4 separate regions of the Homo sapiens genome follow, and all the other regions are reported to be linked to region 2. Evidence: microRNA targets listed by miRTarBase, many of them from high-throughput screens and not tested one by one. Region 2 holds a microRNA gene; each other region holds the end of a gene's coding sequence. Distances are between the middles of the regions.
The links. The annotated mature microRNA hsa-miR-548h-5p reads AAAAGUAAUCGCGGUUUUUGUC and lies in region 2 at 2,814-2,835, opposite strand. An mRNA with a match to its seed (bases 2 to 7 or 8) in the 3' UTR can be bound and repressed. Matches are read on the target gene's strand: a 7mer-m8 pairs with bases 2 to 8, a 7mer-A1 pairs with bases 2 to 7 and ends in A, and an 8mer does both.

Region 1 (7,123 bases), 1.4 Mb from region 2:
CGGAACTCTCTTAACATGCTGGTTCACTAAGCAAGCAGTGGGCCTCTCTGTCATAAACAAACATCTCAAATTTATTGAGTGTTTTTTGTTAATGTTTTTACACAAAGATTTGGAAAGAGAAAATTTGCAGTTATAATTTTTCTACTAATACTAGCTAAATTCTCATGGAAAATTTTGGTCTTAACATGTTATAAAAATTACCCCCAAAGAATTCTGACTTTAAGAAGCCATTTTCCACTGCATAGTCTATTTATATGGGATGCAGCCATAAGAAAAAAATTAGTGAAAATTTGTGTTTATTCTGCCTTTATAAAATTCATGCAAATTTACGTCATATAGCCTATTCCCATTTCTTTGAAAGTTCTCATTCATCCCATGGAACTTGGGTGTTTTAAGCAGTCTACTGGGTATGGCATTGGTGGGGCAGGGAGAAAGTGTTGTGATCTAATAATGTGGGAATATTTTAAGAAAAGATCCATTTGTTTGTCACATTTAACTACTAGCTCTTCAAGGATGTTGTGACAAACTTATATCACAGTCCACCAATGACTGTAAAAATATCTAGTCAACATACTTAGTCTGTAAAAGAAAACTGTTGCTAGAGATGGAGTTTTAAAAGGTGGGTTAGTGAAGCAGATACTGGGACCCTGGCTCTGGAGAGTACAGGGAAGAAGCTCCTGGGGCAAATTTCTCTTGGGCCTCTTTTGGTCAAAAGAATTACAGCCTTTTTGTTAAAAGGTCAAAAGAAGAGGTCAAAAGGATTGCGACCTTTTTGTAAAAAGGTCCTCCTGTTGTATATAGGAGAAATGGAGGTTGAGATTTATATTGGTGTCCCAAGAGGAATAGTGACTGGCATTTGCGTCATTCTTCTTAGCTCTTAGATGGTGTGGTGGAGGCTCCAGCTATGTTTTGTGCTGAGTGACAACTTGGCTGTCTTCCTCAACAAACACTCCCTGGTATACAGATGAGTTTCCAGACCTCACTGCCAAGGTGGCACCTTCAGATCATTACCACGTATCCTCTCTCTAGGCATGCCCATGCCCATTAGCATATCTGCATGGAATAAAGGCTGTACTCGCCTCTCTGAACTTGTAGTGTTGCGGTATTTCATAGCTATGTGTGGTTGGGAGCCTGGAGTTCTATGTTCTATAGAAATTGGAAAATGTTCAGTTTGGGCTGTCATACAAACTTTTGACTTTTTTGTTTTCAATTTTCTTGCAGAAACATCCCTTTATTTTGATGTATGAAGAACGTGCCGTTGAGGTCGCATGCTATGTTTGTAAAATCCTGGATCAAATGCCAGCTACTCCCAGCTCTCCCATGTATGTCGATTGATATCGCTGCTACATCAGACTCTAGAAAAAAGGGCTGAGAGGAAGCAAGACGTAAAGAATTTTCATCCCGTATCACAGTGTTTTTATTGCTCGCCCAGACACCATGTGCAATAAGATTGGTGTTCGTTTCCATCATGTCTGTATACTCCTGTCACCTAGAACGTGCATCCTTGTAATACCTGATTGATCACACAGTGTTAGTGCTGGTCAGAGAGACCTCATCCTGCTCTTTTGTGATGAACATATTCATGAAATGTGGAAGTCAGTACGATCAAGTTGTTGACTGTGATTAGATCACATCTTAAATTCATTTCTAGACTCAAAACCTGGAGATGCAGCTACTGGAATGGTGTTTTGTCAGACTTCCAAATCCTGGAAGGACACAGTGATGAATGTACTATGTCTGAACATAGAAACTCGGGCTTGAGTGAGAAGAGCTTGCACAGCCAACGAGACACATTGCCTTCTGGAGCTGGGAGACAAAGGAGGAATTTACTTTCTTCACCAAGTGCAATAGATTACTGATGTGATATTCTGTTGCTTTACAGTTACAGTTGATGTTTGGGGATCGATGTGCTCAGCCAAATTTCCTGTTTGAAATATCATGTTAAATTAGAATGAATTTATCTTTACCAAAAACCATGTTGCGTTCAAAGAGGTGAACATTAAAATATAGAGACAGGACAGAATGTGTTCTTTTCTCCTTTACCAGTCCTATTTTTCAATGGGAAGACTCAGGAGTCTGCCACTTGTCAAAGAAGGTGCTGATCCTAAGAATTTTTCATTCTCAGAATTCGGTGTGCTGCCAACTTGATGTTCCACCTGCCACAAACCACCAGGACTGAAAGAAGAAAACAGTACAGAAGGCAAAGTTTACAGATGTTTTTAATTCTAGTATTTTATCTGGAACAACTTGTAGCAGCTATATATTTCCCCTTGGTCCCAAGCCTGATACTTTAGCCATCATAACTCACTAACAGGGAGAAGTAGCTAGTAGCAATGTGCCTTGATTGATTAGATAAAGATTTCTAGTAGGCAGCAAAAGACCAAATCTCAGTTGTTTGCTTCTTGCCATCACTGGTCCAGGTCTTCAGTTTCCGAATCTCTTTCCCTTCCCCTGTGGTCTATTGTCGCTATGTGACTTGCGCTTAATCCAATATTTTGCCTTTTTTCTATATCAAAAAACCTTTACAGTTAGCAGGGATGTTCCTTACCAAGGATTTTTAGCCCCAAATCTCTCATATTCGCTAGTGTTTAAAAGGCTAAGAATAGTGGGGCCCAGCCGATGTGGTAGGTGATAAAGAGGCATCTTTTCTAGAGACACATTGGACCAGATGAGGATCCGAAACGGCAGCCTTTACGTTCATCACCTGCTAGAACCTCTCGTAGTCCATCACCATTTCTTGGCATTGGAATTCTACTGGAAAAAAATACAAAAAGCAAAACAAAACCCTCAGCACTGTTACAAGAGGCCATTTAAGTATCTTGTGCTTCTTCACTTACCCATTAGCCAGGTTCTCATTAGGTTTTGCTTGGGCCTCCCTGGCACTGAACCTTAGGCTTTGTATGACAGTGAAGCAGCACTGTGAGTGGTTCAAGCACACTGGAATATAAAACAGTCATGGCCTGAGATGCAGGTGATGCCATTACAGAACCAAATCGTGGCACGTATTGCTGTGTCTCCTCTCAGAGTGACAGTCATAAATACTGTCAAACAATAAAGGGAGAATGGTGCTGTTTAAAGTCACATCCCTGTAAATTGCAGAATTCAAAAGTGATTATCTCTTTGATCTACTTGCCTCATTTCCCTATCTTCTCCCCCACGGTATCCTAAACTTTAGACTTCCCACTGTTCTGAAAGGAGACATTGCTCTATGTCTGCCTTCGACCACAGCAAGCCATCATCCTCCATTGCTCCCGGGGACTCAAGAGGAATCTGTTTCTCTGCTGTCAACTTCCCATCTGGCTCAGCATAGGGTCACTTTGCCATTATGCAAATGGAGATAAAAGCAATTCTGACTGTCCAGGAGCTAATCTGACCGTTCTATTGTGTGGATGACCACATAAGAAGGCAATTTTAGTGTATTAATCATAGATTATTATAAACTATAAACTTAAGGGCAAGGAGTTTATTACAATGTATCTTTATTAAAACAAAAGGGTGTATAGTGTTCACAAACTGTGAAAATAGTGTAAGAACTGTACATTGTGAGCTCTGGTTATTTTTCTCTTGTACCATAGAAAAATGTATAAAAATTATCAAAAAGCTAATGTGCAGGGATATTGCCTTATTTGTCTGTAAAAAATGGAGCTCAGTAACATAACTGCTTCTTGGAGCTTTGGAATATTTTATCCTGTATTCTTGTTTGAATTCCTCCTCTATTTAAGATATATACATGGAATCGAAGTGTTTATGTAATAGTTCTATCCTTTTGCCTGCAGGTCAGTTGTAATAAATCTAGGATGTGATGATGACTTTGTAATTTGATTTTCTGAAATCAGACCCTGAGAGGGGAAAATCTTAAAGTAAATTACATTAAATTATCTGTGCATTTCACACCAGGGAAAATGACCTCCTTTTGGAAGTGTTTTATGGCTGCTTTCTTTTTCTTCTTCCTTCCCATGGCTACCCTTTTTGCTTATCCTTCTTGAAACCACAGATGTATCTGTTAAGCATAGCTTTGCTTGAACAGGTGTCACAGTCTCTTGAGTTTCTTTGTTTGTTGTCCTGACCTGCCCCAGCATTCTTAATGCTAAAGGAAGTGGGTACAGTTCTTCAACCTGTGTCATGGTGGAGAGGTACAACTTATAAGTCTATCTGGGCCCCGTGTATGGTTTCCAGCCATGCTCTCCGCTCTTGGTGCTTCAGCTGCCAGGTGAGCATTAGATGTCAGGTTAGATACTGGGTTGGAATCACTCACTGTTACCTTAGAAGGGTAGGGAGGATTGTGGGTAGAAGACGTCTGGAGGTCAGACATGGGAGGTTTATGGATGAGAGGACAATGGAAGTGAACAAAAAGCCATGGGAGCCTGAAAACTGTTGGAGAAAAGCACTTTGCGGCTCCAGCACTGAATGTATCTGCTGTACTCTACCTCCTACCAGTGATTGATCAGATAACAGATTCATTGATATTATGGTGATTCAGCACCTTGCCCTTGTGCCTGCTCCTAACTGTACCTGAGATACTATTACACAGCCAGATGTGGTATCAAACATTCCCCTGAGAGGGGTGTGAAAGCAGGAATTCTGGCCTCTCCAGCTAACCTCAGCTGCTAAGGGAAAGGGTACCCATTGGGTTTCAATACTGGCATGAGAGATAGACTACACACTCCATGTTTCATAGGACACTGCCTTGTATTTGTTCATCTCATTTGATTCCAAATGCATCCCACTAAAATCAAGTGGCTGTATCCCCTTTTAGATACAAGAAAACCAAGGTCCGAAGGAGTGAAGTTCTGGCTCAAATAACAGTAGGGAGCAGAGCTGAGATTCAAATTCAAGGCCGTAACACGTACCCTAAGAAGTTACATTAATTTAAAAACACTGCTATTAAAGAAGTGTTGTGGAGTTGAGAAGTGGAAGAATGAATATAGTTGAGGATACTCTGTTCATAAACCTGACCAGGGCCTGCTTTGTTGTTTTGGAAATGAGTTGAAGGCAGAGGTTCTGGGGGCCACAGTGGGGCTTAACATACAAAGCGATCCATACAAAGGCAACTGTGTAATTACCTTAGAATTAACTAGAGGAACTCTAGGTTGTAATTCTTCAGTGCAAACACCTGAGAATTCAGTGTCATGGACTGAACGTCTCCATTAGCATGATAATGTGGCAATCACTGAGAATGAGTAAAGTGCCCTTTCATTTATTTTATTTATTTTTTATTTTTTGAGACAGTTTTGCTCTTGTTGCCCAGGCTGGAATGCAATGATGTGATCTTGGCTCTGCAACCTCTGCCTCCGGAGTTCAAGCAATTCTGCCTCAGCCTCCCGAGTAGCTGGGATTGCAGGTGCACACCACCACACCTAGGTAACTTTTTCTTTTCTTTTTTTTTTTTTTTTTTGAGATGGAGTCCCACTCTTGTCGCCCAGGCTGGAGAGCAATGGCGTAATCTCAGCACACTGCAACCTCTGCCTCCCAGGTTCAAGTGATTCTCCTGCCTCAGCCTCCCAAGTAGCTAGGATTACAGGCGCCTGCCACTACACCCAGCTAATTTTTTTTTTGTATTTTTAGTAGAGATGTGGTTTCGCCATGTTGGCCAGGCTCGTCTCGAACTCCTGACCTCAGGCGATTCACCTGCCTCGCCATCCCAAAGTGCTGGGATTACAAAGAGCCAGCATGCCCGACTTCCCTTTAATTGATTCGATCCAACTGTCTTAGCTGCAGGAGGATAGAGAAAGGACACATAAGGTCTTGAAAGTACCGTTGGGACACTGGTTACTTTTCTTGGCAGTGTGTAGAGATTATGTGTCTCCATCTCTTGTGCAGGGCTGTCTGCACCAGTCACATCCATTGTTCCTGGGCTTATTGCTTGGGATGTGAGGGACAGAGAATCTAAAGGCTTTGTCTTAAACGTACTGGCTTGGTTTTAAATACCTCATTAAGTGGTTGAGGGAAAATGTAATCTGCAGTAATAACTCTTAGGATGAACTGTAAGAACCACGTCATGGAAAATTGACACTGGACAACATCATAGAAGGAACACCTGTAGAATGGGAAACAGCTTGTCTTCTGGTAATTTAGTACAGACTGAAGTTATCTTTATATCTTGGTTCTTCCCATCTTTTCGATACGTGAATATCCAGAAATTCTCATCTCAAGCCTTGAAATCATAAAGATAGTGGTTCAGTATCTGCTTTTGATAACATTTTGTTTTGTTTTTCTGATATGCCAAAATGTATTTATACATCTTAAATGTAAAATGTAGTCCTGCTATTTAAAACTTGTTAACCCATATAGCATATAGTCACAATTCAGTAATTGTAATGCATGATGAATCAAATTTCTGTCTGCATTTGAAATTTCTATCTACATATGCATTCTGCTAAAGAACAGTATTAAGACTTCCAGTTTTTCCTAATTCTTATACAAATTTAATGTGAACACCACTCTTCAAGGAGATAGGAAGGGTATTCTGTTGCTCCAGTCCTACACATGCGTAACAGTACTAAATAATTAGGTAATTTGCCTAAGGTAATACATCAAGAGGGTATATAGAGCTCAGATCTCTTGATGGCTTATTAGGATTCTTTTTGTGTATGTGACAGGGTCTCACTCTTTTGCCCAGGCTGGAGCGCAGTGGCACGATCTTGGCTCACTGCAGCCTCTGCCTCCCAGGTTCAAGCAACTCTCCTGCCTCAGCCTCCTAAGTAGCTGGGATTACAGGCACCTACCACCACTCTTGGCTAATTTTTTGTATTTTTAGTAGAGATGGGGTTTCACCATGTTGGCCAGGCTGGTCTCAAACTCCTGGCCTCAACTAATCCACTCTCCTTGGCCTCCCAAAGTGCTGGGATTACAGGCGTGAGGCACCACACCTGGCTTGTTAGGATTTTTATGAAACTGTGCTTCCCGTTTGACGATGAATTACAAGGTTTAAAAGCAAAAGATTGATAGTTACATATGATTCCTGCCTGCGACACTTATTCTAACCCCTGGAGCCATTTTCCTTTGGAAAATTGCCTTTAGCACATGATTAGAAGCAACATTACTGATCATCTGCTCACTTTTAATCCTAAATGGTATTTCACAGTTTAATTTCTTAGTTCATAAGACTTGATCTCAACCCACT
Region 2 (7,123 bases):
ATTCCCCTTAGGGGCTACCCAAAAGAGCAAAAGGGAAAGGCAGAAGGGATCTCTGGGACCTCACATCCTTATTTAAGCAGAGAAACTCCCCTTTTATCAGTGTTCATTTTCACTTCAGTGTAAAATTTCATTTGAACTAGGAGTTCTAAGGTCATCAAATATTTGAAAACTACTGCTTAAGGGAACACATGTGGATTTGTAAATCCTGCTAAATCTATTTATGTATTGTGATATAATTCTCCCTACTGATGCTGTAAAAAATTGTTTTAAACTGAAAGCTATGATATAAACTATTCCAACTGACCCCACATATCCCCAAAGGCCTCCTTTAAAGTTCTACTCTGTGGTTTGAATGAGTTTTTGAATGGATGCCAAAGATTTCCTATCTCCTCTGCTAAAGAGGCTAAGACTACAAAAGAAGCCAAGCCAGGGGGAAAGAAAAATTCCAGCCATAAAGTTTCAAAGAATTCTCAGATATTAATTCTGACCCAAGTGCCAGAGTGATTCACTGGCGGGTGATGCTGAGTAATCTTACTTTGGACTCTTAATCCATGTTCTATTAATGGATTTTAGCCACAGCTCAAAAGGTTAGGAATTAAAGACCCCATTTCCACCTCTTTTTATTAAATTATTCTAACCTCATCCTGGGTAATTCATCACTGTCTCACTCGCTCTTGGTACACACATTGGGAATGGAAGGGCCAGTTGATACAATCACCCTGTCCACCTTCCCAAACACATTCTAATAAAAAAAGAGCCCTAAGTCCAGTTTCTCTGAGATTTGAGAGGGTGGTTATTCCAATTTTACATTCAGTACTGCTGAAGAGTCAGTTCCTAGAGACTCTTGCTCCTTAAGGAGTCTCTTTCTTTAGTAGAATCATACCCTTTGCCTTAGTTTTGGTAATTTTCAATGTTGTTTAGGTTGAGCCTTTGAACATCGTGACCAGATGGTCATCTGTTGGCAGTTTCCATAGCATTCGTTCAGTGGGCACAAATCTTGAAGGCTACTTGAAGAAAGAGGATGAAGTTCAGATGGTTCACACACCTCCAGAAACCTCTTTCAACTGTGAACAATCTTGACTTGCTGTGGTTTCTGTACATGTAGTAAAGCATGTTGAAGGAATGGATGCCTTGACTTCATTGATACCTGGAATGGACGGAATTATATCCCCTCAAAATTGGTAAGTTGAAGCCTCAACTCTCAATGTGACTGTATTTGAAGATTAAAGGGCATTAAAGGAGGTTATTAAAGTTAAATGAGGGGTCGGGCACAGTGGTTCATGCCTGTAATCCCAGCAGTTTAGGAGGCCAAGGCAGGTGGATCACTTGAGGTTAGGAGTCTGAGACCAGTCTGGCCAGCATGGCAAAACTGCATCCCTATAAAAAATACAAAAATAGCTGGGCATGGTGGCGTGCACCTGCAGTCCCAGCTACTTGGGAGGCTGAGGCATGAGAATCACTTGAACTCGGGAGAGGTGGAGGTTGCAGTGAGCAGAGATTGCGCCACTGCCCTCCAGCCTGGGCAACAGAGCGAGACTCTGTTTCCAAAAAAAAAAAAAAAAAATGGTTAAGTGAGGTTGGAAGAGTAGATCCCTGATCCAACAGAATTGGTGTTCTTAAAGGAAGAGGAAGAGATACCAGGAGTATGTCTGCACAGAGGAAAGGTTGTGTGAAGACACAGAGAGAAGGTGGCCATGTGCAAGCCAAGGAGAGAGGTCGCGGGAGAGAACAACCCTACCCATCCTCAATCTCAGACTTCCAGCCTCCAGAATTGTGAGACAATAAACTGTTGTTTAGGTCCCCCAGCCTGTGGCACTTTGTTATGGTAGCCTGTGATATTTCGAAATATCACAGGCTACCATATTTTGATATTTGGTCTTCCTGTTTCCTGGCTCATCATTCCCAAAACCCTTGGAATCTAAAGCAATAAATTTCTTTGTGAATGTTAATGAGATGACTGGTGGCTGGGGGCTCCTGGATAGCCTCAGGATGGGGGATGGTTGCCAGGGGAATGTTGTAATTAGAGGGTTGAAACTTTCAGCTCCCCCACTACCACCACACACACACCTCTGGGGTGGAAAGAGGAGCTGAAGATTGAGTTCATCACCAATGGCCAGTGGTTTAATCAATCATGCCTATGTGATGAGACCTCTACAAGAACCCAAGACTGGGTTCTGACAGCTTCCAGAGAGCTGCACACACAGCAGTTCCTGGAGGTTGGTGCAACCAGGGATCTGGGAGCTCCAAACCCCTTCCTACATACCTCGCCCTATGCATCTCTTCTATCTGGCTGCTCCTCTGTATCCTTTGTAATATCCTTTGTAATAAGTGGGTCAACATAAGTGTTTCCCCGAGTTCTGTGAGCCACTCTAGCAAATTAAACAAATCTAATGAAGCGTTCATGGAAAACCCCAATTTATAGCCAGATAATCAATCAGAGGTATACTAATCGCAACAAGCATTTAAAGTGGGGGGCAGTCTTGTGAGACTGAGCCCTTAACCTATGATATCTGATGCTGTCTACAGGTTGATGGTGTCGGAACTGAATTGAATAAGACACCCAGATGATGTGTGCTGGAGAATGTAGTGTCAGAAGTGTTATATCGAGAGATGTGTGGAAGTAGAGAAAAAATATTTTTTTTTCTCTGACATAGCCCAAGCAGACTAATACAGTGCCACAACTTCAACATTTGGAATCAGTCTGAAGAAGAGAAGTTTCCAGAAGACATTATGGCTGTTTTTAAATATCTGAAGACAGTGACTACTTTTAGGTTGGTGCAAAAGTAATTGCAGTTTTTGCTATTACTTTCAATGACAAAAACCGCGATTACTTTTGCACCAACCTAATACATGCAGAATCAGATTTGTTCTCTGTGAATCTAGAAGGAAATCTAGAACTGGTTGGAAATGTTTTAAAAAATAAGGAATTTGTCTCAATGATAAAAAAGGAATTTTTAACTGTTAAAGCTTTTCAAAAGAAGAATGAGAATGAGCTACATAACAAAAGTGGGTAAGATCCCATCTCATAAATAACCATCGATCTGGATTCCGAAGCATCACAAAGAATGTTGGACTACCAGGACTCTATGATGACTTTTAAGTGGTAAAAGTAGGATTTTAAAACCCTCTCATCAAGGGTTACCACTAAGTAGCTCATTATCTTGGGCAAGTTGCCCAAAGTCTCTTCATCTCAGTTTCCAAAAATCTTTTTAAAAAGAAAGTACAGTTTTTGTGAAAATTGAAAAGAATATATTAGTAAAGCATCAAATAAATAGAAAACATTATCATCATCATCATGCCATTGGTGTCATCAAATGAAAATATTCCAAGAAAAGAAAAAATATATAATGCTTTCCATTCATATGATGAAAATATATACATTTTTTCTTACTTTGGGTTTGCTTTAAAAATATAAATATAACTGTGCTTCTCATGAAAAGGTAATCATATAAAACCATTAAAAACCCAAACCCTGGAAGTTTGCCTTACATCATAAGAAGAAGAGCAACAAAAAGCCTTAGTGAAACTGAACAGAGTGTTCTCTTTTCCCTGATGGGTGAGATGCGATCTGCACAAGCTGTGAGTGTAGAGAAACAAATGCTAGTCCTTCAGCTGTAGGGGTCTGGGACGACCTTCCTAACTAAGGCAAAACTGCCTTTTCTGTGAGTCACCCTTTGAAGGAAGGGCTCGCTGCCTGGGAGCAGTTTTACTGTTTCACATTTCTTTCATTCATCACTTTTCAGGCCCTGCGCCGTCTGGCACAGCCCCAGCCTCTTTGTGTGGATATCTGGCTCTCATTGCTGCAGAGAAGTGATGTCAGGAGGCTCTGACTCAGGTGAGCAATAAGGAGCAGATGGCGCCTCCACAAACCCAGAGCCTCTCCCCGCACCCTGCTCCTTGGAACAAGAGTAATTATTATAAATGGGATGGGTGGTGGGATAAGCAAAGATCCAAGTTTTCTAAGAGGATCTGCAAAGCTGAACCCTCCAGGAAAAAAAAAAAAGTGCAGCCACCAGCATGGACAACAGAAAGGAACCCTGATTGGAGATTGTTTAGGAACATGGTGCTCACTCAATTGGGCGTTGTGCTAATCTGATTAATGAAATGACGATGCTAAGCGGGGCGTTCAGCTTGCTGCATCCGTAGCTAAGGCAAGTTGGGCAATTCCCCCCAGAACATCAATTCTCAGCACCCTTGTCAGATAACTGTTTATGAAAAGATGAATGCACGTGGCAATCTCGGGTGAAGGAGGCTGATGCATGTGTTGTTAATGATTGAAATAATCAGTTTGGTAGTAACTGGCATGTGCGCTTGTCAAATGACAGGCTGGGGAGCATTAGCATTCCTCAGGCATGGACGCCTTTATCTTCAGGCTGGTGTCTGACAACTACCAAGATCACCCATGAATAAATATCGGGCCTTACCCAGACATAATTAAACTGCCAATGCAGATATACCTAAATAAAATTGATATCTTAATGACACCAGATAGTGTTCAAGTAATGAAAGCAGTGTGAGAGGGACCTGCACAATGAATGGAGACATCAGTGCTCATTCCACAGGGGACTCTTCCCCCAGTAACTCCTCACAGAGGTTGCTTCTCATCGTGGTGGAGTTTTATTTCTGGCCTTTTCTCTTCGATTGGCCTGCCTTCACCATCTGAGAAATCTTTCCTTCTTTCTCCCTAGCTATACCGGAGAGCTATGTATCTCTCTGCATGGAAGAGGTTTGTGTATCTTTTGTTACACTCCACTGGGCCACAGAGATTTTGGTTTTGTGACATCTGAAATAACCCCACTATGCTTAGGACACCAGTGTTTGCTGATCCTGGAGCTGCGGCTGCATCACCTCCTCCACGGAGTCCCGGGAGAAACCTCCGTTGCTCATGTCTGCATCACTCAGTACATCCAGCAAAATGCTAAAAAGCATCAGGTGGTAATCTCAGCATTTTCGGGGGCCGAGGCGCATGGATCACTTGAGGTCAGGAGTTCGAAACCAGCCTAGCTAACATGGTGAAACTTTCTCTAATAACAATACAAAAATTAGCCGGGTGTGGTGGTGCGCACCTATAGAGTCCCAGCTACTCAGGAGGCTGAGGCAGGAGAATCGCTTGAACCCAGGAAGCAGAGGCTGCGGTGAACCGAGATTGTGTCACTGCACTCCAGCCTGGGTGACAGAGCGAGTCTCCTTCTCAAAATAATTTAAAAAAAAGTACCAGGTGAATCTGATCTCCAGCCTCTTGCCAGCTCTGGGGGTCGTTTGAGAGAGAGAGTGCGTATGTGCATTTATCTGACTAATTTCCACCTGTCCGCCCTCTCTGACTTCATAAAATTGACTGTCTACCACGTGGACCAACTCCTCACCACTAAGATGCAAGCACTTTCATCTTATCTAGTCCTTTATCTTTATATGCCACTCCCAGGAAAAAATGAATCTGCCTCTGAAACCATTTCTACAACTCCTTATCATGTTTCTTTTTTCTTTTTCTTTCTTTCTTTTTTTTGACGGAGTCTCACTCTGTTGCTAGGCTGGAGTGCAGCGGCGTGATCTTGGCTCACTGCAATCTCTGCCTCCCAGGTTCAAGAGATTCTCCTGCCTCAGCCTCTCGAGAAGCTGAAATTACAAGTGCGTGTGCCACTACGCCCAGGTAATTTTTGTATTTTTAGTAGAGACAGGGTTTCACCATGTTGGCCAAGATGGTCTTGATCTCCGGACCTCGTGATCTACCCGCCTCGGCCTCCCAAAGTGTTGGGATTACAGGCGTGAGCCACTGCGCCCAGCCCATATTACGCTTCTTAATTGCCGTTATCTTGCAGTAGATTTTTCCTACTGATTTCCCTATGGAAATGGCACCCCCTCTTTCAGCCTCTCTCTTTAACTACCTCCTTTGACTAAAATGTGATTATTCATAGACTTAATTTGCTCACCTGAAAATCGCTGAAGTTGGACAAGATCATCATTTCTCAAACTGTGTCCTCTAGAACACCAACTTTTCGTAGTACAGTGCCAAGCAGCAGTTGTTCAATAAATATTTGTTGAATAAATGAAAATACTTGTGTCATGATAAAAGGGATTCTGGAGACAAGTGTAGGGAGAGCTGAGAAAAATGTGTTTAATCTTTACTCTAAAACTTTTCAGACCTTCCGATGGGCTACTAAGCAGTATAAAACTTCATATGGTATGCAACTTTTAGCAAACTTATTTAACCATGGAATTTCATGTTTTGCAGTTGCCTAGGAACCCGTCACAGAATATACATTAGATTTAATGATTACCAAATTTCTTTTGGCTATTAAATTCTATGACCACATGTCTTACACAGAGACCCATCCATCACTCCCATTCACCTCAAGGGAAGAAAATAAGTCTTCAACTTCATCCCTCCCCATAGCATCTAACACTATGTCTTTCCTTTTAAAGTCCTGTGATCATTAAAAAAAATTTGGTCTTTGTCCCCAGTTCCTGACACAGCTCCTAAAGCCCTTGGAATTTTGGGAGTAATAAGTGCCTTTTGCAAGTAAATGTGATGACTGATGGTTGGGGGGCCCCTAGATAGCTTCAGGGGAACGGGTTGCCAGAAAGACCAACGCACCATTAGGGAGTTGGAACTTTTAGCCTCACCCTACAACCTCCATGGAGGGGAGAAAGGGCTGGAATTGGAACTAATCAACAATGGCCAGTGATTTAGTTCATCATGTCTATGTAATGGAACTTCCATAAAAGCCCCTAAACAACCAGGGTTCAGAAAGCTTACGGAGGTGCTGGGAGGCTGTGCACCCAGAGAGGACATGGGAAGATCCATGCCCTTCCTCCACACCTTGCCCTAAGCATCTTTTCCATTTGGCTGTTCTTGAGTTGTATTCTTGACAATAAACTGGTTATAATAAGTACAGTCTTTTTTGAGTTCTGTGAGTTGTTCTGGCAAATTATTGAACCTAAGAAAGGGGTTATGAGAACCCTTGATATTTAGCCAGTCAGTCAGAAGTACAGGAGGCCTGGGACTTGGGATTAGCATCTGATATGGGGCAGCCTTGTGGGAGGGACTGAGCCCTTAACTCCAGGGATAGGATGCTAACTCCAGGTAGATAGTGTCAGAATTGAATTGAGTTGTTGAACACCTACT
Region 3 (7,123 bases), not on the chromosome of region 2:
GAGATACTGCTCTCTTCATAGGATGCTTCACAGGGAAATACTAAATAAACAGGTTGGCAGAGAGGTCTAGACTTCCCTCTTGGGAAGAAATCTTCATCTACTTTCATGCTAGAAAATAATATTTCCTCTCTATGTATAGGGTGGAATACAGAGTTTTTGCCTTTGAAAATCCACAGGGCTCTTTCTTACAACTCCAAAAGCACTCTGGTGAAGCCTTCTCCCTGAGATACAGCCACGTAATCTGATGCTGCTGGCCAGACAAGCTCAAATGCTGGCGGGCTGCACTGGATCTGATTTCTCATTAACGACAGATTTTTGTTGTTGATCATGATTGTTGGTTTATAAATGCAAGGTGCCAAATATGCTTTAAAAAACAGAGCAGTGCTTTTCAAACTTTAATACACCAGTGGATCGCCTGGGGGTGTCGCTAAAATGCAGATTGCAATCCAGCAGGTCTGGGATGGGGCCGAGATGCTCCATGTCTAATAAGCTCTCGGGTGAAACTGATGCTGGGTGACCACACTTTGGGCACATACCAGGTGTGCCCAGGGAAGAGTGCCTGGGGGTGATTCCTGTATCAGCCCCTCCCTAGCCTTTGCTTCCAACCTCCTGGTCTGGCCCGGGAATGACTGTGTGCATCTTGATGTTTAGGTTTGTCCACCCCCGTTTTGGGCCCATCAAATGCATCCGCACCCTGAGAGCAGTGGAGGCCGATGAAGAGCTCACCGTTGCCTATGGCTATGACCACAGCCCCCCCGGGAAGAGTGGGCCTGAAGCCCCTGAGTGGTACCAGGTGGAGCTGAAGGCCTTCCAGGCCACCCAGCAAAAGTGAAAGGCCTGGCTTTGGGGTTCAGAGACCTGGAATAGAAACTTGGATCTATGCACTACGTTTATCTGACAATGGGACAACCAGGGACTGCTCATGCTGTGACGTCACATCCTCTCACCATGCGTTAGCAACGACTTTCTCGCATACTAACTAGGTTTGACTGTATTACTCATACCAGATTTAAAATTAGCTAGCCTTGCAACAACGTCCTACTGAGAGGTATTGTCGAGCATTTGACATAAGACAGCGTGATGTTCTTTGGTGGTTCAAGTCTAAATCTGTACCACATTCGGAGATGCCAAATGATTAGACTGAAACAGGGAAACGGGGTTTTTCAGTCATTTTTAGTCAGTGGTTTTTCCATAGTGCTTTTTTCCTATGGCCAGTGCAAATTGTGTTAGCACACTTGCATATGTGCCGTATTAAGGGTTGACAATTACTACATCTTTATTCTCTAAATGTAGTATAATTTGCCTTTTAACCTTTGATCTGTATCTTGCAATAGAATGGCTTTGGTTTTTTTCTTAGTAAATAGGAGCCCACTTCTAAAGTCATTTCACCCCTCAGCCCTATTCTCTTTCTTAGATACCCTTTACAAGAGAAAACTTCCAAATGGATTTTTGCATCAATAGCAGTGTGTAGGTCTCTCTGGTTCTTTCTATATCATCATTTTATTATTATGTCCTAATATAAAGTACTGGCTCATAGGGCCAGGGTATTATTATAGAATATTATTCTCGCATGTAAACAAAGATATCTTTGCTTTAAGATGTGAGAAGAAATGAATTTACTTTGTTTGCATTAAGTTATGGAAGAGTTGTAATATATACTTTAAGAAAGAAGAGAAGAAAACTAGTATCTCTAAGCGGTAACTATGGCAATTTTGCAATATTTTCAGTAGTGCTAGTAATTTTTTCCTCCTTGAGTACACATTAAATGTACATAACATAGCGCGGTCAGGCTTGTGGCACAGTGCATTGAATTCAAAAGTCAAACAGCAAATTTGAATTCTAACAGAATTCAAAAAAAAATTTTTTTAGTCAGTACTACTAAGGCAGACACACTGATTACTAGGTACAAATCAAACCTTGATGCTAAAACTCTTCATCATTGTAATTTCAAAGCACTTACCTGCTTCAAAACATTGTAAACTAAGACTGAACACCTGTATAGTTTAAAAGCAACACTATCAATAGCATTTCAGCCATTTTGCCAGCCATGTGTAATCACAACTGCAGAAATAAGGAGAAAACCCCTGTTTTTTTAGTTTAGCTAATTAGATCTGTAACATCACTGGGATTGCTCTGAATGAATCCTGAGAGTTTTGTTTTTTATAAGCACCCTCACCACATGCCATAGCTTTGTCTCTTTTAGACACCTCGATGCAGCGGCTGGAAGGACTGGAGAGCAGCTGTTGTGCTGATCTGTAGCTGTCAGCTGTGATTCCTGTCACCTGAGTCAGTTTGGTCTGGAAAGCGAAGGCCTTCCAAGCTGTAGCAGATAGTGAGCTCCAGCTGATGAGAGAAGGCTTCAGTGGAAGAAGAGTGAGGACATAGGCAGAAGGAAGTTTGCTATTTCTTGTCAGTTGCACATTGCTTTATGAAGACTACAACAAAAGTGCTTAATCCCAGGCTGCTCATGACTTTCATTTCAGGTGGCCCTTGGGCACATTGACAGAGTTGCCCTTCCCTTCTTTGCAACACCAGGCTTCCTAGAGCACCCGGTTGCATGCTTTGCAGCTAGGTGGCAGTGGTTTCAGGGAGATCCAGTTGGATCCCTGCTTGAAAGCTTAAGCCAATGGTTCACCCATGAGAGGAAGTTGTCAGTGCTTCCAGGAAGATTGCCCACCAAAGGAACTGAATAGTTTTTAGATTTAAAGGCACCAGGATAGGGTCACTCTTACTCTGTAGAAAGAGACCGTTCTATACACTGTGACGGATGGGCCAGGGCCTCTGGACTTGCATTCTGATAGGTGCTTTAATTTAAATGTGCCCAAAGGGAGTGACTGTCTTCAGGAGAAAGATGGCTTGCATTAACCTCGATCAAGTGGGTTGTGCAGCCAGGTCAGGGAATACGGTCAGGGAGAGGATAGTGCTGGTCATGCCCCCGATGCAGCTATGCTCTGAATGATTTCATTCCTGAGAGTGATAGCATTCTGGTCCTGGCTGCAGTGGGGTACAATTTACGTCCTAAGTGGGGGCTACTCTAATTATCCCATTCAAATGGAATTTTTTTCAACATTGGATAGAAGGAATTGAAGAGTTGTAAGTAGTGATTAGTCTGCTAATCAGTTCTTCAGATGAGATATTGAATGGTAACACTCTGAGCTTAAAACTCAGCAGTGTGTCTGTGACCTCCACGCAAATCAGAGGAAGCAATGCATCCACGCTGAGCCTCACCATGTCTTCCTCCCAACTCTCTTCATACTCTCTGTGTCTTCCAGCTCTTCTTTCTCTGGCCGGCTCTCTTTCCTCTTCTCTCTGCATATGTGAGAACGCCTGGGCATCCTGGGTAACAGCAGCCCCAGCTGCCCTCTCCTGTTCCCTGTTCCAAGTCCCCTGCACTGACCTTTCTTGAGTCTCTCTGGCTCTGTGCATGTCTTTGGGACTCTGCTCATCTGGCTTTTCCTCTGTGTGTGCCTCTCTGTTTGCTTATGTCTCTGGCTCTGTCTTCCCCACCCCTCCCCTCACACACACACATACTCCCAAATGTAAGGCTCTGTGGCAGGTTGGAATCGGAGTAAGGCTTGAGATTCACTGAGTTCTGTAGGTAGGGAAAGAAGTCAAGGGAGTGGAGGTTCTATAAGGAATTAACAGCTGAGGACGGAAGGGTTTGTTTCCCGTTTGAACCTAAACGCAAGTGGAAAAGAATACTCAGAATGTATTTTTCTACTTTACATCTGCTGGGGAAGGAAATGTGTCAGGAAGCCGCTGCATCTGGTCATTTCATCGCATCAGAATCACAGCAGACGTGGAAGATTCCATGTGGTGGGGAATAAAGAAATAACTTTATGCTCTCCTGAAAAACAGCGGGAGCCTATGTGTGTGTGCGACACTGTAATCTCAAGGAGATTCACTCAGAGCTGTCTCAGTCCAACTCCTGCATGACCAGATCTTCCCTTAGCATCTTTTCTGTGATGAAATATTATCTTGTGTTAGAGTTAGGAATAGGAACTAACCTGTAGGAGCATGTCCCCAAATGGACATTTGAATGGACTAACAAAAACAACTGGAAAGACTGAATTTCCGACACAAAGGAATGATGGGATCAAAAAGAAAGCAGTGAGGAGTTCTTGAGTCTTGTAGTACCTATTCTTATTTTAACTTGCTTCATCCTTGATCTACCTGAGACACTAAGAAGGAAATTAGTTTTCCAAGAGCTCTTTGAACCTGTCTAGGACTGTAGTTAAACCTATTTGCCCTATGGGGGTTCTTCACACTCGAAAAACTATTTCCTTATCACCAACGACCCACCCAGAAAGGCCAATGAGGCCAAATGTAACAATTTTTAACATTTAAATATAACTATTAAAATTGCATTAATTGTGAACAGTGAATTAAAGGGTTGTCTTCTCCAGGAGACAGTATGTGGCACTTTTCGTAAATTTCATTTAATATATAAAAATTTAAATCACTCACTGCAACATGCATTTAAAATCTTCCAAGAAGGTAGAGGTATCATTTTCTGTTTTGCTTTGTTTTAAAACAGTTGCCTCAAGCTTCTGTCTTAAGAGTAGTGACTTAGAATCCAGATATCTTTTGTTTTAGAAAAACAAGCAAAACTATGTTGCAAGACTGACAGTTGTAATGTTTATTTGCCACAGATCAAAGGTTCACAAAGTATATCAAATTTACATCTACTTGGGGTACCTTGATAGATTATTATTGTTTTTCTTTTATCTTTCCCTTCAGGAATTTGGAAACTCGTTGTCACTTTTTTTAATTTTAAAAATACTAAATTGTAATAGTTTTCTTTTGCCAAATGTGTGCGTACATATTCAAAGCAATGAAACTATTTCAAGCCATACAACCACAGGGGTGGGAACCCTTTTCACAAATTTTAATGTGTTTGTATGTAAATAGATGTTTGTATGAAATATTTTCATGATAGAATGAATATATTTAAATGAAGTTGAATTATTCCAGTGCTACTTAAACACATTACAAAAATTTTGGTGAGAATTATCTGAGTCTATTGAGATGTAATGCAGATCAATTTTGATTTTTAAAAATCAAAAGCCTACAATAACTCTGACTCTCAGCAACTTCCTCGGCGTTGTTGCACCTGACGTGGAGAGAGCTCGTAGGCTTCCCCAGTGCCTCAGCCGCTTCCTGGTGGAAGTTAGGTGCTAATGGAGGTGTGTTCACCTTTTAGTGATATCACTGCAGGCCTTTGAGGGGCCTGAGAGTGAATCAGAGGCATTAGAGACACCGGTGCAGTTATCTGGAGCACAATTTCTTTGCAGGGCAGCAGAATCAGAAGCCAGACTTGGCCATGTGAACCTCGAAACTCGGTTTCCCGGCCGCCATCAACCGCCACCCTTACTGCCTAGTCACACACGTCAGGGAGGCTGCCCTCAGTGGAGTTGGGGTTGAGACCCCAGGGTGGGACTTCACAGTTTTGCCAGCAATCTCTACCTTCTGACTTCTGCCTCGCAGAGAGGAAGGAGAGGGGAGCATCTGGCAAGGGGCCCATTTCTCAGCACAGTACATTTCCTGTCTCAGCTCTGGAAGACTATGCACCCAAGCACCAAACTTCCAACCAGAGAGAGAGACGTCCTCCGATAACAAAAATCCTTGCTTCCTCTGTCTGTGACTTTACACACAGTTGTTCAAAGTTGTTAAATGTCAAGAGTCAATCACATCCCTAGGACATACCTCCCAACTCTCCTGACTCTTATGTTATTGAAAAAACAAACAAACAAAAACTCCTTTATGATGATATTCAACTTGAGTGGGGTTTTTTTTCCACTTTGGTCCTGGATATAATGAAATGATACATATTAGGATAAATTTTCACTGTGTATAGTAGCAATACGAACACACATGCCAATGTATCAACATATCTACTTGGTTACATTTTGGTTTATGATAATTAACCTTGATTCATGTATTGGGAAGCTACAGGGACTACGTAATACCTGCTTATCACATAGGAAAATTATGTCCATGATTCTGAGCTCCCTTCTTCAAAAGTTTCCTCCTGGGTGTTCTATGTTCTCTCTTTATCCTGAAATACATTTATTAGGTTGTGAGGTATGTTGAAGAAGTAGAAGCCAGGGGTATGCTTTCAGCATTTATTGCAACCAAAAGTTAACCCCATCACGGTTAACGAGCATCTTTGGTCTCTTGTGGAATTTGAACTAAAACTATGAGCCTTATTCAATATCTATAATTCTATGATTTTTTTAAATTATGGGAAATTAATGAAAGATGTTTACATGAATAATGTTTGCCCTTACTGTGTTATGAATGAGTTTTTTGTAGTGTGTCTGGGTGCATGATGCAAGAGAGTAGGAAAAATGTTTCTGAAACAAAACTTGACAAATATTTGTAATGAAAGTAAATTTAAAGATTGCTATAATTGCGCTATAGAAACAATGCAAGTATTAAACAAAATATACAATCATCTGTCATTGTCTTCCTTTGGTCATCTAGGTTAGAAAAGCAATAATGGTTTTCTTATAATGTGTCTACCTGTATATTTAAATTACTAAGTGAACTTTACATTTTAAGTTGTTTTAAAATATTATTAGCCATTTATCATTTTCAGAGCATTCTAGTAAGAGCGGAGGATTTGATATGATTCCACATACACCCATAAATCCAGAAGGATTAGCCACACCAACAGAAAGTGTCGGATTGAATACATACATGGTAAGGGTATGGAATGCAAATGAGATGATCAGGGCAAATAGCTGAAAGGAAACTTCAATTCATGATTTAAAGAAAATATAGAAATTTTGTTAGACGTTGTGGTAGATTTTGGCAGTCTGAGGATGAGTCTGAGCTGAGAACCCTGGCAATCCCTTATTCCTGCCCTAATCACAGTCAACATTTCCGTTTTTTTTTTAATCTGAGATGAAGTCTCACTCTGTCACCCAGGCTGGAGTGCAGTGGTGCAATCTTGGCTCACTGCAGCCTCCACCTCCGGGATTCAAGCGACTCTCCTGCCTCAGCCTCCCAAGTAGCTGGGATTACAGGCGCTTACCACCACACTCAGCTCATTTTTGTATTTTTAGTAAAGACGGGGTTTCACCATGTTGGCGAGGCTGGTCTTGAACTCCTGACCTCA
Region 4 (7,123 bases), not on the chromosome of region 2:
AAGAAGTTAAAAACTTTGAAAAAAATTTAGACAAATGTATAACTAGAATAACCAATACAGAGAAGTGCTTAAAGGAGCTGATGGAGCTGAAAACCAAGGCTCGAGAACTACGTGAAGAATGCAGAAGACTCAGGAGCCAATGCGATCAACTGGAAGAAAGGGTATCAGTGATGGAAGATGAAATGAATGAAATGAAGCGAGAAGGGAAGTTTAGAGAAAAAAGAATAAAAAGAAACGAACAAAGCCTCCAAGAAATATGGGACTATGTGAAAAGACCAAATCTACATCTGATTGCTGTACCTGAAAGTGACGGGCAGAATGGAACCAAGTTGGAAAACACTCTGCAGGATATTATCCAGGAGAACTTCCCCAGTCTACCAAGGCAGGCCAACATTCACATACAGGAAATACAGAGAACGCCACAAAGATACTCCTCAAGAAGAGCAACTCCAAGACACATAATTGTCAGATTCACCAAAGTTGAAATGAAGGAAAAAATGTTAAGGGCAGCCAGAGAGAAAGGTTGGGTTACCCACAAAGGGAAGCCCATCAGACCAACGGCGGATCTCTCGGCAGAAACTCTACAAGCCAGAAGAGAGTGGGGGCCAATATTCAACATTCTGAAAGAAAAGAATTTTCAACCCAGAATTTCATATCCAGACAAACTAAGCTTAATAAGTGAAGGAGAAATAAAATACTTTACAGACAAGCAAATGCTGAGAGATTTTGTCACCACCAAGCTTGCCCTAAAAGAGCTCCTGAAGGAAGCACTAAACATGGAAAGGAACAACCGGTACCAGCCACTGCAAAATCATGCCAAATTGTAAAGACCATCGAGGCTAGGAAGAAACTGCATCAACTAATGAGCAAAATAACCAGCTAACATCATAATGACAGGATCAAATTCGCACATAACAATATTAACTTTAAATGTAAATGGACTAAATGCTCCAGTTAAAAGACACAGACTGGCAAATTGGATAAAGAGTCAAGACCCATCAGTGTGCTGTATTCAGGAAACCCATCTCATGTGCAGAGACACACATAGGCTCAAAATAAAAGGATGGAGGAAGATGTACCAAGCAAATGGAAAACAAAAAAGGCAGGGATTGCAATCATAGTCTCTGATAAAAGAGACTTTAAACCAACAAACATCAAAAGAGACAAAGAAGGCCATTACTTAATGGTAAAGGGATCAATTCAACAAGAAGAGCTCACTATCCTAAATATATATACACCCAATACAGGAGCACCCAGATTCATAAAGCAAGTCCTGAGTGACCTACAAACAGACTTAGATTCCCACACAATAATAATGGGAGACTAACACCTCATTGTCAACATTAGACAGATCAACAAGACAGAAAGTTAACAAGGATACCCAGGAATTGAACTCAGCTCTGCACCAAGCGGACCTAATAGACATCTACAGAACTCTCCACCCCAAATCAACAGAATATACATTTCTTTCAGTACCACACCACACCTATTCCAAAATTGACCACATACTTGGAAGTAAAGCTCTCCTCAGCAAATGTAAAACACCAGAAATTATAACAAACTGTCTCTCAGACCACAGTGCAATCAAACTAGAACTCAGGATTAAGAAACTCACTCAAAACCACTCAACTACACGGAAACTGAACAACCTGCTCCTGAATGACTACTGGGTACATAACGAAATGAAGGCAGAAATAAAGATGTTCTTTGAAACCAACGAGAACAAAGACACAACATACCAGAATCTCTGGGACACATTCAAGGCAGTGTATAGAGGGAAATTTATAGCACTAAATGCCCACAAGAGAAAGCAGGAAAGATCAAAAATTGACACCCTAACATCACAATTAAAAGAACTAGAAAAGCAAGGGCAAACACATTCAAAAGGTAGCAGAAGGCAAGAAATAACTAAAATCAGACCAGAACTGAAGGAAATAGAGACACAAAAAACCCTTCAAAAAATTAATGAATCCAGGAGCTGATTTTTTGAAAGGATCAACAAAATTGATAGACCGCTAGCAAGACTAATAAAGAAGAAAAGAGAAAAGAATCAAATAGACACAATAAAAAATGATAAAGGGGACATCACCACCGATCCCACAGAAATACAAACTACCATCAGAGAATACTATAAACACCTCTACACAAATAAACTAGAAAATCTAGAAGAAATGGATAAATTCCTTGACACATACACCCTCCCAACACTAACCCAGGAAGAAGTTGAATCTCTGAATAGACCAATAACAGGATCTGAAATTGTGGCAATAATCAATAGCTTACCAACCAAAAAGAGTCCAGGACCAGATGGATTCACAGCCGAATTCTACCAGAGGTACAAGGAGGAACTGGTACCATTCCTTCTGAAACTATTCCACTCAATAGAAAAAGAGGGAATCCTCCCTAACTCATTTTATGAGGCCAGCATCATCCGGATACCAAAGCCTGGCAGAGACACAACCAAAAAAGAGAATTTTAGACCAATATCCTTGATGAACATTGATGCAAAAATCCTCAATAAAATACTGGCAAACCGAATCCAGCAGCACATCAAAAAGCTTATCCACCATGATCAAGTGGGCTTCATCCCTGGGATGCAAGGCTGGTTCAATATATGCAAATCAAGAAATGTAATCCAGCATATAAACAGAACCAAAGACAAAAACCACATGATTATCTCAATAGATGCAGAAAAGGCCTTTGACAAAATTCAACAACGCTTCATGCTAAAAACTCTCAATAAATTAGGTATTGATGGGATGTATCTCAAAATAATAAGAGCTATCTATGACAAACCCACAGCCAATATCATACTGAATGGGCAAAAACTGGAAGCATTCCCTTTGAAAACTGGCACAAGACAGGGATGCCCTCTCTCACCACTCCTATTCAACATAGTGTTGGAAGTTCTGGCCAGGGCAATTAGGCAGGAGAAGGAAATAAAGGGTATTCAATCAGGAAAAGAGGAAGTCAAATTGTCCCTGTTTGCAGATGACATGATTGTATATCTAGAAAACCCCATTGTCTCAGCCCAAAATCTCCTTAAGCTGATAAGCAACTTCGGCAAAGTCTCAGGATACAAAATCAATGTACAAAAATCACAAGCATTCTTATACACCAATAACAGACAAACAGAGAGCCAAATCATGAGTGAACTCCCATTCACAATTGCTTCAAAGAGAATAAAATACTTAGGAATCCAACTTACAAGGGATGTGAAGGACCTCTTCAAGGAGAACTACAAACCACTGCTCAGTGAAATAAAAGAGGATACAAACAAATGGAAGAACATTCCATGCTCATGGATAGGAAGAATCAATATCATGAAAATGGCCATACTGCCGAAGGTAATTTATAGATTCAATGTCATCCCCATAAAGCTACCAATGACTTTCTTCACAGAATTGGAAAAAACTACTTTAAAGTTCATATGGAACCAAAAAAGAGCCCGCATCGCCGAGTCAATCCTAAGCCAAAAGAACAAAGCTGGAGGCATCACGCTACCTGACTTCAAACTATACTACAAGGCTACAGTAACCAAAACAGCATGGTACTGGTACCAAAACAGAGATATAGATCAATGGAACAGAACAGAGCCCTCAGAAATAACGCCGCATATCTACAACTATCTGATCTTTGACAAACCTGACAAAAACAAGCAATGGGGAAAGGATTCCCTATTTAATAAATGGTGCTGGGAAAACTGGCTAGCCATATGTAGAAAGCTGAAACTGGATCCCTTCCTTACACCTTATACAAAAGTTAATTCAAGATGGATTAAAGACTTAAATGTTAGACCTAAAACCATAAAATCCCTAGAAGAAAACCTAGGCATTACCATTCAGGACATAGGCATGGGCACAGAATTCATGTCTAAAACACCAAAAGCAATGGCAACAAAAGCCAAAATTGACAAATGGGATCTAATTAAAATAAAGAGCTTCTGCACAGCAAAAGAAATTACCATCAGAGTGAACAGGCAACCTACAAAATGGGAGAAAATGTTCGCAACCTACTCATCTGACAAAGGGCTAATATCCAGAATCTACAATGAACTCAAACAAATTTACAAGAAAAAACAAACAACCCCATCAAAAAGTGGGCGAAGGACATGAACAGACACTTCTCAAAAGAAGACATTTATTTATGCAACCAAAAAACACATGAAAAAATGCTCACCATCACTGGCCATCAGAGAAATGCAAATCAAAACCACAATGAGATACCATCTCACACCAGTTAGAATGGCAATCATTAAAAAGTCAGGAAACAACAGGTGCTGGAGAGGATGTGGAGAAATAGGAACACTTTTACACTGTTGCTGGGACTGTAAACTCGTTCAACTATTGTGGAAGTCAGTGTGGTGATTCCTCAGGGATCTAGAACTAGAAATACCATTTGACCCAGCCATCCCATTACTGGGTATATACCCAAAGGATTATAAATCATGCTGCTATAAAGACACATGCACACGTATGTTTATTGCAGCACTATTCACAATAGCAAAGACTTGGAACCAACCCAAATGTCCAACAACAATAGACTGGATTAAGAAAATGTGGCACATATACACCATGGAATACTATGCAGCCATAAAAAATGATGAGTTCATGTCCTTTGTAGGGACATGGATGAAGCTGGAAATCATCATTCTCAGTAAACTATCGCAAGAACAAAAAACCAAACACTGCATATTCTCACTCATAGGTGGGAACTGAACAATGAGAACACATGGACACAGGAAGGGGATCATCACACTCTGGGGACTGTTGTGGGGTGGGGGGAGGGGGGAGGGATAGCTTTAGGAGATATACCTAATGATAAATGACGAGTTAATGGGTGCAGCACACCAGCATGGCACATGTATACATATGTAACTAACCTGCACATTGTGCACATGTACCCTAAACCTTAAAGTATAATAATAATAATAATAATATAAAATTAAAAAATTAAAAATAAATAAATAAACAAAGTCCCCACCACTTCCAAATGCCATCAACATACAAATTTGGAGATTAAGTTTCACACACATGAAATCTGGGGGGCACATTCAAACCATGGCAACAAGGTATCTAAAGTATTCAAACTCATAGAAACAAAAAATTATAATTTCAGTTGAGAGAGACTTGGGGAAGGAGGAAATGGGGATTTGTTCAATAAATAGAGAATCTTAGTTTTACAAGGTGAAAAAGTCCTTGAGATCTGTTGCACAAGGTGAATACAGTTAACACTGATGAACTGTACACTCAAAGTGATTAAGATGGTAAATTTTATATGTTTTTACCATAATTTTTTAAAAATAAAAATAATTTTAAAATATGATTTAGATACAACTATTCTAGCACAAATAGGATTAATATAATTATATGTTAAGAGTGCATTAATTCAGAAAAGCTAGGAAATAAGTAAATAATGAAATGTCAGACCTCTCAGATGCACACCAATTCTCTTTTGCACTTACTGAATTGGAGATTTCATGGATGAAAGCACAGCAGATGCTAAAAATTTGTTTTCTGCTTTCCCTTCTTTCCCTTTTCCTCTACTCAACCTGTCCCCAACTGCAAATATATGCACTGAAGACAATAAAGGAAAAAATAATACAGTGTTCTGCTTTTCTCTTCCCTTTGCAGTCCTCCATAACAGGTACAGTAGTATTAGTTCAGGAACAAGGAAAATGGGAGGGAAGCTCAATTCCAGCCTTCTCATTATGAAAACCAGACCATTTCTTATATTTCAGGCTCAAGATGGCAGCTCTACCAGGCAGTAGAAAGATATCTGAGTACTCAAGATCTTCAAAACCAAATGAGAAATTAATTTTAAAAATAAAATACTACTATGTATCTCCTATTTCACTGAACTAATTTCAAATTAAAGGTGGCAAAAATAAGAGACAACACACCCACATAACACACATTTTCTTTACTAACCAATGAAACAAAATATAAGAAAATATATATCATAAATGAATAGCTTATTCCATTAGGAAATATCTCATTCTACATTCTCTTAGAACTGGTTTTCCATCAATTTCATCACATTTTGTTTCTGCACTTCTGTTTGGGTGAAAACTCCCATAATAAACAATAAGAAAAAGAATTCCAAGAAGAAGAGTAAGAACTATAGTTATACTGATAGGTATAAAATAGTCTGGATTAAAAATAGTGAGGGGGCAAACCCAGAATACAGTCAATATCCCCAAAGTGCCCAGTACCCTAACAATATAATAACAAGACATTGGACACTTGGTATTCTGTCCCTTAATATTAAAAAATGTAAAGATAAGAATGAATCCAACAACAATCCTATATAAGAATTCCATACTTATACAAGTACAAAACTGGGTGTTGTTTTTAAATGCCCATATTATACCTAACAACCAAAGAAATAACAACAGAAATAAAGCAATCTTAACATTTAAGAATAGTAGAAGTACAACACTCAGCATCCACGATAATAATGTAAACAACTTGTAAAAGAGATATGTGATTTTGGGACATAATCCATTAAGAAGCTTTTTGTCAGGCAAGGATTTTCTTAAAGCTACTTGATAATCAACAGTTGACCAAGAAATAGCACAGCAAGAGACCATGATGGCCGCATCTACAAAACAAAAAAATAAAAAATATATTGTTATAGGAATAATAGAAATATTAGATTACTATATCCCATACATGCTATATCTATATACACACACCCACAAACACGTCACATACTTTACTCTTCTCATCTAATCTTTTGAAGTAGATATTATTATGTATGGGGGAACTGAGACTTGGAGAGATACACTGCTTGACCCAAGTTGCAAAGCTAGTAAGTTGCAGAACTGAGATTTGAACCTGATTCCAAAGTGGATAGATTTATCCACTATATTAGACTGTTTTATTATGATTTTTTAAAAATTCATGGGACAAATTTTATTGAGCAACTGATATACTGAAAAAAGCATACTCTGTGAGTTAAGAGACTACAGTTATAATCCTAGTTTTTCTAGATGTTTTGACTGTGATTTTAGGCATACACCCAATTCACTAAGAGATAATAGCTTCAAGCAGGGGTAAGGGAAGGAGAGGAGGAGGGGTAGAGAGAGAGAAAGAGGGTTAAACAGAAAATTTAATATGAG

Region 1: the mRNA of MAP2K4 is a reported target of hsa-miR-548h-5p. Seed matches in the 3' UTR shown: 7mer-m8 at 1,827-1,833 and 7mer-A1 at 2,287-2,293.
Region 3: miRTarBase lists SETD7 as a target of hsa-miR-548h-5p. Seed matches in the 3' UTR shown: 7mer-m8 at 1,617-1,623, 7mer-A1 at 1,657-1,663 and 7mer-A1 at 3,719-3,725.
Region 4: miRTarBase lists XKR9 as a target of hsa-miR-548h-5p. Seed matches in the 3' UTR shown: 7mer-A1 at 5,077-5,083 and 7mer-A1 at 4,913-4,919.

Annotation. Positions count from the first base shown.
Region 1 is chr17:12,139,926-12,147,048 of GRCh38, forward strand. MAP2K4 (mitogen-activated protein kinase kinase 4) reads left to right here. Exons shown (of 11, transcript NM_003010.4): 11 at 1,222-3,903. The coding sequence ends at 1,335. Among named protein-coding and RNA genes, the nearest start is that of MIR744, 62 kb to the left of the region's middle.
Region 2 is chr17:13,540,784-13,547,906 of GRCh38, forward strand. MIR548H3 (microRNA 548h-3) reads right to left here and starts at 2,863; the gene lies at 2,746-2,863. All of the region lies in intron 1 of HS3ST3A1 (heparan sulfate-glucosamine 3-sulfotransferase 3A1), which reads right to left.
Region 3 is chr4:139,505,372-139,512,494 of GRCh38, reverse strand. SETD7 (SET domain containing 7, histone lysine methyltransferase) reads left to right here. Exons shown (of 8, transcript NM_030648.4): 8 at 652-6,457. The coding sequence ends at 832. Among named protein-coding and RNA genes, the nearest start is that of SETD7, 47 kb to the left of the region's middle.
Region 4 is chr8:70,733,276-70,740,398 of GRCh38, reverse strand. XKR9 (XK related 9) reads right to left here. Exons shown (of 5, transcript NM_001011720.2): 5 at 4,457-6,603. The coding sequence ends at 5,975. Among named protein-coding and RNA genes, the nearest start is that of XKR9, 67 kb to the right of the region's middle.